Linked DNA regions of Homo sapiens: region 2 is linked to region 1. Evidence: fine-mapped expression QTL. A gene starts in region 1. The other region holds a variant in brackets. All regions are shown on one strand. Distances are from middle to middle.

The links. PIP is the estimated chance that this variant, and not a neighbour inherited with it, causes the effect.
Region 2: its variant is the best candidate, but not a certain one, in a credible set for the expression of FMNL1-AS1 in esophagus mucosa (GTEx, PIP 0.52).

The regions. Positions count from the first base shown.
Region 1 is chr17:45,239,446-45,243,829 of GRCh38, forward strand. It overlaps FMNL1-AS1 (FMNL1 antisense RNA 1), which reads right to left and starts at 2,325. Exons shown (of 3, transcript NR_186808.1): 1 at 1,666-2,325; 2 at 1,045-1,159. It overlaps FMNL1 (formin like 1), which reads left to right. Exons shown (of 27, transcript NM_005892.4): 12 at 1,031-1,180; 13 at 1,684-1,785; 14 at 1,937-2,189; 15 at 2,402-2,701; 16 at 2,896-3,020; 17 at 3,673-3,875; 18 at 4,346-4,384. RefSeq lists an enhancer at 1,717-2,435.
Region 2 is chr17:45,379,940-45,384,323 of GRCh38, forward strand. No RefSeq gene overlaps it. Among named protein-coding and RNA genes, the nearest start is that of ARHGAP27, 51 kb to the right of the region's middle. The variant A/T (reference allele first, on the strand shown) is at 1,948.

The DNA.
Region 1 (4,384 bases):
AGAAGCAGGAGTTGGCTCATGCTGGATGGGCCCAGGACATGGAGGAGTTCCCTGCCCTGGGGAAGGTGGGCAGAGCTGCTTGGTGCTTCCTGGCCCAGGCTGAGCAGAGAAGCTGCAGCTCCTTCTCTGCTTCCTTTGGGAGGTTTCCTGGAGGAGCGGGGCTTTCGGGGTTGGATTTTTGAAAGCCAGGATTAACAAAAGGTAGAGAGCAGGCTGGCGGGGGGGTCTATCTGTGCAATGGAGTATTATTCAGCCACAAGAAGGAATGAAGTATTGACACATGGTACAACATGGGTGAGCCTTGAAAACATGCTAAGTGAAAGAAGCCAGACACAAAAGGTCACGTACTCTATGATTGCTTTTTTTTTGAGATGGAGTCTTGCTCTGTTGCCCAGGCTAGAGTGCAGTGACACGATCTTGGCTCACTGCAACCTCTGCCTCCCGGGTTCAAGTGATTTTCCAGCCTCCCCAGTAGTTGGGATTATAGGTGCCCACCACCACACTCGGTTAATTTTTGTATTTTTGGTAGAGACGGGGGTTTCACCACGTTGGCCAGGTTGGTCTTGAACTCCTGACCTTAGGTGATCCGTCTGCCTCAGCCTCCCACAGTGCTGGGATTACAGGCATGAGCCACCTCGCCCAGCTATCTATGATTGCTTTATATGAAATGTCCAGAATGGGTAAATCCATAAAGATGGAAAGTAGATTAGTGGTTGCCAGGGACTGGGGGAGGAGAGAATGGCAAGTGACTGCTGACGCCTGTGGGGTTTCTTTTTGGGCTGATGACAATGTTCTGGAATTAGATAATGGTGATGGTTGCACAACCTTGTGGCTATACTAAGAATGACTGAATTGTACACTTTAAAATGGATTTTATGATTTGTGAATTATATATTAAAAAATAAAGAAAAAGTAGGCTAGGGCTCAGGCCCCTTCCTCTGGATGGCAGTGGTGGCAGGGGGGTGGTTTGGAAAGACTCCCCCCCACACACACACCAGGCCTCACCCCACTCCTTCCATCTGGGGGACAGAGGCTTCGGCTCACCGAGAGTGACAAGCTGCAGGTGCAGATCCAGGCGTACCTGGACAATATTTTTGATGTGGGGGCGCTGCTGGAGGACACAGAGACCAAGAACGCTGTGCTGGAGCACATGGAGGAACTGCAGGAGCAAGTGGCGCTGGTGAGAGTGGGTCCTGACCCCAGCCCAGCACATCATAGGCCCACAGGGCACACGGGCCACAGGGCCACGCAAGCATGGGCACTGGGCAGCAGACAGTGTTATAATTGTGCATTGGAGGTGCTGCCTGCCTGGCCCCAGAGCCTGGCCTGAATCCAAAGCCTGAATCTGTTGGGTGTCTTTCTCAATGAGTGTGGGTGAGCACCCTCACTGACAGGCCCCTCCTCTACCCAGGCTCAGACCCCAGGTGAACTGAAATGGGTGCCTGGGGCCCCTCCCAGCTCAGTCTCCTCCTCTCCCTCCACCTCCCGCATCACTGGTACCTTGGTTTCCTCTCCTTATTTGCTTGGGTTCGAGTGCCAGGCTCGGCCCACCCTTGGCACCTGGGCTGAGCGGATCTGGGAGCCTCCCCCAGTCTTCCAGGCAGGCATGCCTGATGCCGCCCCCTCACCGGCGGTGCCAGTGCCGGGCTGCGGGTCGGGGCTCACCATGTGCTGGTGCTACAGCTGACAGAGCGGCTTCGGGACGCGGAGAACGAATCCATGGCCAAGATTGCAGAACTGGAAAAACAGCTAAGCCAGGCGCGCAAGGAGTTGGAGACCCTGCGGGTGAGGCTGGGGCGGGTGGTAGGCCAGGCGCCCAAGAACAGGCCAGCTGAGGCTTCTAGGCTTGACATCTCCCTCCACCCCGGGAAGAAGATGGAGGCTTGGTGCCAAGGAGCCTGCTGGTGGGCACTGACCCCTCCCGTGGGGTTCGTAGGAGCGCTTCAGCGAATCGACCGCCATGGGGCCCTCCAGGCGTCCCCCAGAGCCTGAGAAAGCGCCTCCCGCTGCCCCGACGCGGCCCTCGGCCCTGGAGCTGAAGGTGGAGGAGCTGGAGGAGAAGGGGTTAATCCGTATTCTGCGGGGGCCGGGGGATGCTGTCTCCATCGAGATCCTCCCCGTCGCTGTGGCAACTCCGAGCGGCGGTGATGCTCCGACTCCGGGGGTGCCGACCGGCTCCCCCAGCCCAGGTGCGCAGGAGCTTCAGGCTGGCGGGGATGCGGGGCAGGGTCTGGAGGGGAGCCCAGGGGCATCTGTGGCGGGCAGAGTTGGGCGAGGGAGGTTTGGATTGTAGGCTCGGCTCAGGTAGGAGCGCATGCGTAGAGCGGAGAGGCGGAGAGGGGCCCACCCAAGTCAAGGAGCTGACTCGCGCCTCCCCCACGCCGCGCCCTCGCTGGCTCAGATCTCGCACCTGCAGCAGAGCCGGCTCCCGGAGCAGCGCCACCGCCGCCGCCCCCACTGCCCGGCCTCCCCTCCCCGCAGGAAGCCCCGCCCTCTGCGCCCCCACAGGCCCCGCCTCTCCCTGGCAGCCCGGAGCCCCCGCCTGCGCCGCCGCTGCCCGGAGACCTGCCGCCCCCACCCCCGCCACCGCCACCACCTCCGGGCACTGACGGGCCGGTGCCTCCGCCGCCGCCGCCGCCGCCGCCGCCTCCCGGAGGTCCTCCTGATGCCCTAGGAAGACGCGACTCAGAATTGGGCCCAGGTGAGTGGAGTGGACCACCTTGGGCCCGGGGCTGGGGGGAGATGGAGGGAGGGGCCTGGGCCTCAGTGTCCTCCAGGGTCCTCTGCCTGGGGGCCTCCTGCTGCCTCCTGGCTGCCCCATCAGCCCTCCCTGGGCCCAGGTTCCCTCCAGTAGTACCCCCAGTGCTCACCACTGCCCCCAAACCCCCGTCCCAGGAGTGAAGGCCAAGAAGCCCATCCAGACTAAGTTCCGAATGCCACTCTTGAACTGGGTGGCACTGAAACCCAGCCAGATCACCGGCACTGTCTTCACAGAGCTCAATGATGAGAAGGTGCTGCAGGTGAGTGGCCCTGCCTGGCTCCCCATGTGGGCACCGGAGGAAGAGGGGAGTTGCCTGGATCAGGCTGGGCCCTGGGGGTAGTCATTTTCTCCAAGCCATTTCACAGATGAGGAGGGGGAGGCCCAGGGATGGGCATTAAGCCAGACTGGACCAATACCTCTAACAGGCAGAATCCTGCTTTCCCAAACGCCTTCCCCTCCATCCCTGCAGAGGGGTGCCTCCCCTCACCCCACTTCTTCTGCCTCCAGGCCTCTTTCCTTCCACTTTCCCACAGGCAGCCAAGGCTTCAGCCCTCCTGATTCCACTTCCAGTTTTCCAAAAGGATGTATTCTCTTGCCTCTAGGCCATTGTTCCATTCTGTTTCCTCTGCCTGGAATGTCTTTTCCTTTCTCCTTTTTACCGCTGGCCAGTTCAGCTCTTCCTTTAGCTCTTGTGGCCCCAAGTCTGGATCCCCCGGGTTAGGCGGCCCTCCTCCTCCAGGCTCCCTGTGCTTCCCCTGTGCCTCCCATCAGGGCCTGTGGTCAGGCTGGGTTACTGGTTCTCTGCTGGTGGCCTGGTCAGGGCCAGATGGATGGCTCTAGCACTGTGCTCAGCCAGGAGAGTGCCAGACCCCAGCCCCACCCAGCTCCGCCTCCTCACCCTGTACCTTCAGGAGCTAGACATGAGTGATTTTGAGGAACAGTTCAAGACCAAGTCCCAAGGCCCCAGCCTGGACCTCAGCGCTCTCAAGAGTAAGGCAGCCCAGAAGGCCCCCAGCAAGGCGACACTCATTGAGGCCAACCGGGCCAAGAACTTGGCCATCACCCTGCGGAAGGGCAACCTGGGGGCCGAGCGCATCTGCCAAGCCATTGAGGCGTGAGTGTCCCTGTCCTGGGTTTGTGGGCAGTCCGGCCCCTTTGCTAGGCTGGGGTTGTCAGGCAGATCCTAGTAAAAGAGCCTCAATGGTGAGCTCTTTCATCAGGCTTCATACCAACCCTGGTCCAGGAAACTTGTCCCCATTTTAAGGTGGAGAAAACTCAGTCCATGCCTAAATTAGGATGTCCCACTTCCTCCCTGCCTCTTTGCCTAGCTGTGAGCACCCAGGCTGTGGGATTTACAGCCGGGCGTCCGCCGCTGACGTACGATGGGGACCCTGGCTGCCCAGTTCCCAGTTTCTCTGGATTCCCAGTTCCCAGTTTCTCTGGATTCCTACCTCTTGCTCTCTGAAGCTGTTGGCAAATAGAAAATACTGAAATTCATTTATTCAATCAAGGCAGGGGTAGCCCTGCTCCCAGGGACTGGTGGGTATGGATGATGCCCAATCTCCCCTCTCCTCCCTCTCACAGGTACGACCTGCAGGCTCTGGGCCTGGACTTCCTGGAGCT
Region 2 (4,384 bases), 140 kb after region 1:
ATACAAAAATTGCTGGGTGTGGTGGTGCACACCTGTGGTCCCAACTGTTCGGGAGGCTGAGGCAGGAGAATGGCTTGAACCTGGAAACTGGAGGTTTCAGTGAGCCGAGATGGCACAACTACACTCCAGCCATGGTGACAGAACAAGACTCCATCTCAAAAAAAATAAAAGCATCCCTTTCTTATGCAGCAAGTGCCTGGCTTAGGGAACCTGTTACCCTTCTGCAATGAAGTAGAAGTTGGAGGTGCTCTTATGGGTGACCTATCCATATAGGGTGCTAAAGGGAACTGGAATGACTTGGGGACATCCCTAACCTTTGAGGCTGACGTCATGGTGATAACCACTCACCCACAACACATCTTGTGGTGCCAGTTCTCCATAAGATGGATAAGGTCCCTAAACACACGGCTGCACGTCTGATGTTCTTATGAGCACGCAAAAGGAACCAGGCCCTCCCTGCCAGGAAGCTGCAGGGAAATTAGAATCATTTGACGAGTTGTCCATTCTTTCATTTGTCTAGTAAGGAGGTACTGAAAGCCTCCTCCTAGGAGCCGAGTATGGTGCCAACAGCTACAGGAATGGCAAACCATATAAATAGCCCAAACAGGATATAATTAGCGTCGGACGTGCACATGTCATGGGTGGAATGATGCAGAAAGAGTGATGCAGCCCCCATCTGGGGCTGGCATCACATGGGACGAGGCGCTTGAGCTAGACATGGAAGGATGAGCAGTGTGATCGCCAGGTGGAAAGGCATTACAGAGGAACGGCATGTGCAAACACCTGGGGGTGCAAGGAGGTGTGTGTGAAACAGCAGGGCTGGTTCAGGGAGCAGCAGGCAGCTATCCCACTCACGCAGTGTGTTTAGTGCTGGGCCTCTTCATCCCCCGACTTAGCAAGTCCATCATTCTCTAAGGTGATTTATAGGTAAGGAAGCTGATGCTCAGAGAGTCTGGGTAACTTGCTTAGAGTGCCACAGCCAGTGGCACAGCTCAGATTCAAAGTCAAGTTTGTCAACTTCACAAATCTGTGTTCTTTTTTTTTAAGCTCCCCTTTCCCAAATCTGTGCTCTCAACTACCATGCGGAACTGTCTTTATAATATGATGCAGGACCTCTAAGCCAGGCATGGCAATTTGGACTTGATCCAAGGCAAAGTTCCTCCAAATACCTGCTATTTGCACTGTACCTTCAAGTTAAAGCTGTCAGAGCCTAGAACTTTCATTTTCTTTCTTTCTTTTTTTTTGTTTTGAGACGGAGTTTCATTCTTGTTGCTCCGGGCTGGAGTGCAGTGACGCAATCTCGGCTCACTGCAACCTCCGCCTTGCTGTTTCAAGCGATTCTCCTGCCTCAACCTCTCAAGTAGCTGGGATTATAGGCACCTGCCACCACGCCTGGCTATTTTTTTTGTATTTTTAATAGAGACAGGGTTTCTCCATGTTGGGCAGCCTGGTCTTGAACTCCTGACCTCGGATGATCCGCCTGCCTTGGCCTTCCAGAGTGCTGAGATTACAGGCGTGAGCCACCACGCCCGGCATCATTTTCTTAATGTTTGTCTTTAAATGTTTCACGTTAAAAAACAAAAAGCAAACAAACAAAAACCCAAAATTTAAGTAATTTTGGTTGATCACGGTGGCTTACCACCGTGGCAAACCCAGAAATTTGGGAGGCCGAGGCGGGAGGATCACTTGAGGCCAGGAGTTCAAGACCAGCCTGGGCAACAAAGTGAGACTCCTGTCTCTACACAGAATCAAATAATTTGCCGGGTGTGGTGATGTGCACCTCTGGTCCCAGCTACATAGGAGGCTGAGCCAGGAGGATCACCTGAGCTCAGGAGGTCGAGGATCGCCTGAACTCAGGAGGTCAAGGCTGCAGTGAGCTGTGATAGCACCACTGCACTCCAGCCTGGGCCACAGAGAAAGACTCTGTCTCAAAAAAAAATTTAAATA[A/T]TTTTTTATTGATGCATAATGTACATATGAAAGAGTACACAAATCAATCACTTTTCATTTGTGTAAGAACACAATAATTTTTCACCCAGGTCCAAAACAGAATATTATGAGTCTTCAGCAGCCCCCTCCAATGAACAACTCCACAGGGTAACCACTCTCCAAGCTTTAACAGCATAGATTAATTTTGCCTGCTTTTGAGTTTTATATAAATGGAACCATAACAACTGCTCTTTTTTGTGCCTGGCTTCTTTTGCTCAGCATTTGTGTGGCTTAATTCATTTTCACTTGATACAGAATTCTATTATGTGAATATACCACGTTACCCATTCTACTGATGAACATACAGGTTATTTTTCATTTTTGGCTGTGATGAATAAAGCTGCTATGAACATGCTTGTGCATGACTTTGGTAAATGCCATGTACTCATTTCTGCTGGAATTATACCTAGGCATTGAATTCCTGGGTCATAGGGTAGTGTAGATATGTTTAGCTTCAGCAGATATGGCCAGTTTCCAACGTAGTTGTTACAGTTTATATCTTCACTGGAAGTAAATCAGACTTCCAATTGTTCCACACCCCTGCCAACATTCGATACTGTCTTTTTCGCTTTAGCCCTGTGGGTGTATAGTGATATCATGCTGTGGTTTTGCATATCTCTGAGACTAATGAAATTGATCACTTTTCATGTTTATTGGCCACTCACATATCCTCTTTTGTTAAGTTTTAAGGCCTTTGCCCATTTTTATTTCTATTGATTTTTTAAATTGATAAGTAAGAGTTTTTTTTTGTTTTTTTTTTTTGAGACAGGGTTTCACTCTGTCACCCAGGCTGGAGTACAGTGGTGCAATCTTGGCTCACTGCAACCTTCGCCTCCTGGGCTCAAGTGATTCTCATGCCTCAGCTTCCTGAGTAGCTGGAATTACAGGCGTACACCACCATGCCCAGCTAATTTTTGCATTTTTAGTAGAGACAGGTTTTGCCATGTTGGCCAGCCTAGTCTCGAACTCCTGGCCTCAAGTGATCCATCAGCCTCAGCCTCCCAAAGTGCTGAGCCACCGCACCCCGCCAAGAGTTCTTGATATATTTGGGATGTTATTTCTTTGATAGATATGCAATTTGCAATATTGTCTCCCAAATAAATTTATTTTATGGAACATTACTACCATAACTAAAGACCCAATATCACATGTCACATATAGTAGGTAACTGTAAAATAAATAAAATTAAGACCATGTTATCTTTCCATTCTAGCTTGATATCTTGCTGCTGGTGGCTGTGGCTGGGATCCTGATCCCTGCAAAAACGAGAGATTAGCAAGAGAAAAACAGATGTGAAGGATAACAGGGAGACTCTCCTTGGTGTACTCAAAAGGCTGGACAGAGTTAGAGAAGAAACAAGTTCCTCATTTTGCAACTACTAAAGATCACTGCAGTGCACCTTTGGTACATGGTATGGGGGTCCTTGAACCTCCTAGAATCATGCCATATGCCACTCACTTTGTGAGTCCTCCACTTAGGGAAACACAACTGTATGGGATGTGGATGCAATGAGGTTGGTAAGCAGGGGTTGACATAATAAGAGTGGTGTTTTAGAGAAATCAAGTGGCAATGAGCACAGAAGCAAAGGCGGAGGAGGGGAGCCTGAGGGAGGAGCAGTTGAGGAGATCCAGGTGGCAAACGGGGAGGGTCTAAGCCAGGAGTGAGCCAGGGGCTGGGGTGGCGTGGGGTGGGAAAGATTGGAGGTAGAATCTGGGAAAGCAGTGACTGGTTGATGGGTTGATGTGTTAAGTGACACTGGGATTTCTTTTTTTTTTTTTTTTTTTGAGTTGGAGTCTCACTCTGTCACCCAGGCTGGAGTGCAGTGGCACGATCTCCGCTCACTGCAAGCTCCACCTCCCAGGTTCACACCATTCTCCTGCCTCAACCTCCTGAGTAGCTGGGACTACAGGTGCCCGCCACCACTCCCGGCTAATTTTTTGTATTTTTAGTAGAGACGGGGTTTCATCGTGTTAGCCAGGATGGTCTCGATCTCCTGACCTCATGATCCACCTGCCTCGGCCTCCCAAAGTGCTGGGATTACAGGCGTGAGCCACCGTGCCCAGCCAACACTGGGATTTCTAAACTGGGGGACTGGGAGGAGAGAGGTAGCAAAGACAGGAGAAGGAAATTATGGGGAGAGAGGAGATGACAAAATCAATCTGGGATACATTGAATTGGAAGTGTTTACATGACCTCAGAGGGAGATTCATTCATTCATTCATTCATTCGTTCATTCATTCATTCATATTTACCGAACATGTGCTGGCACCAGGCATGCAGCTGTCCATCAGACAGACAAAATTCCTGCTGTAATGGAGCTTAACGTTTGTGGGAAAGACAGATGGGGGAAGGACAGATAAAGACAAGCAAATAAAGAGGAAGTGGTGGGAGGTATGCC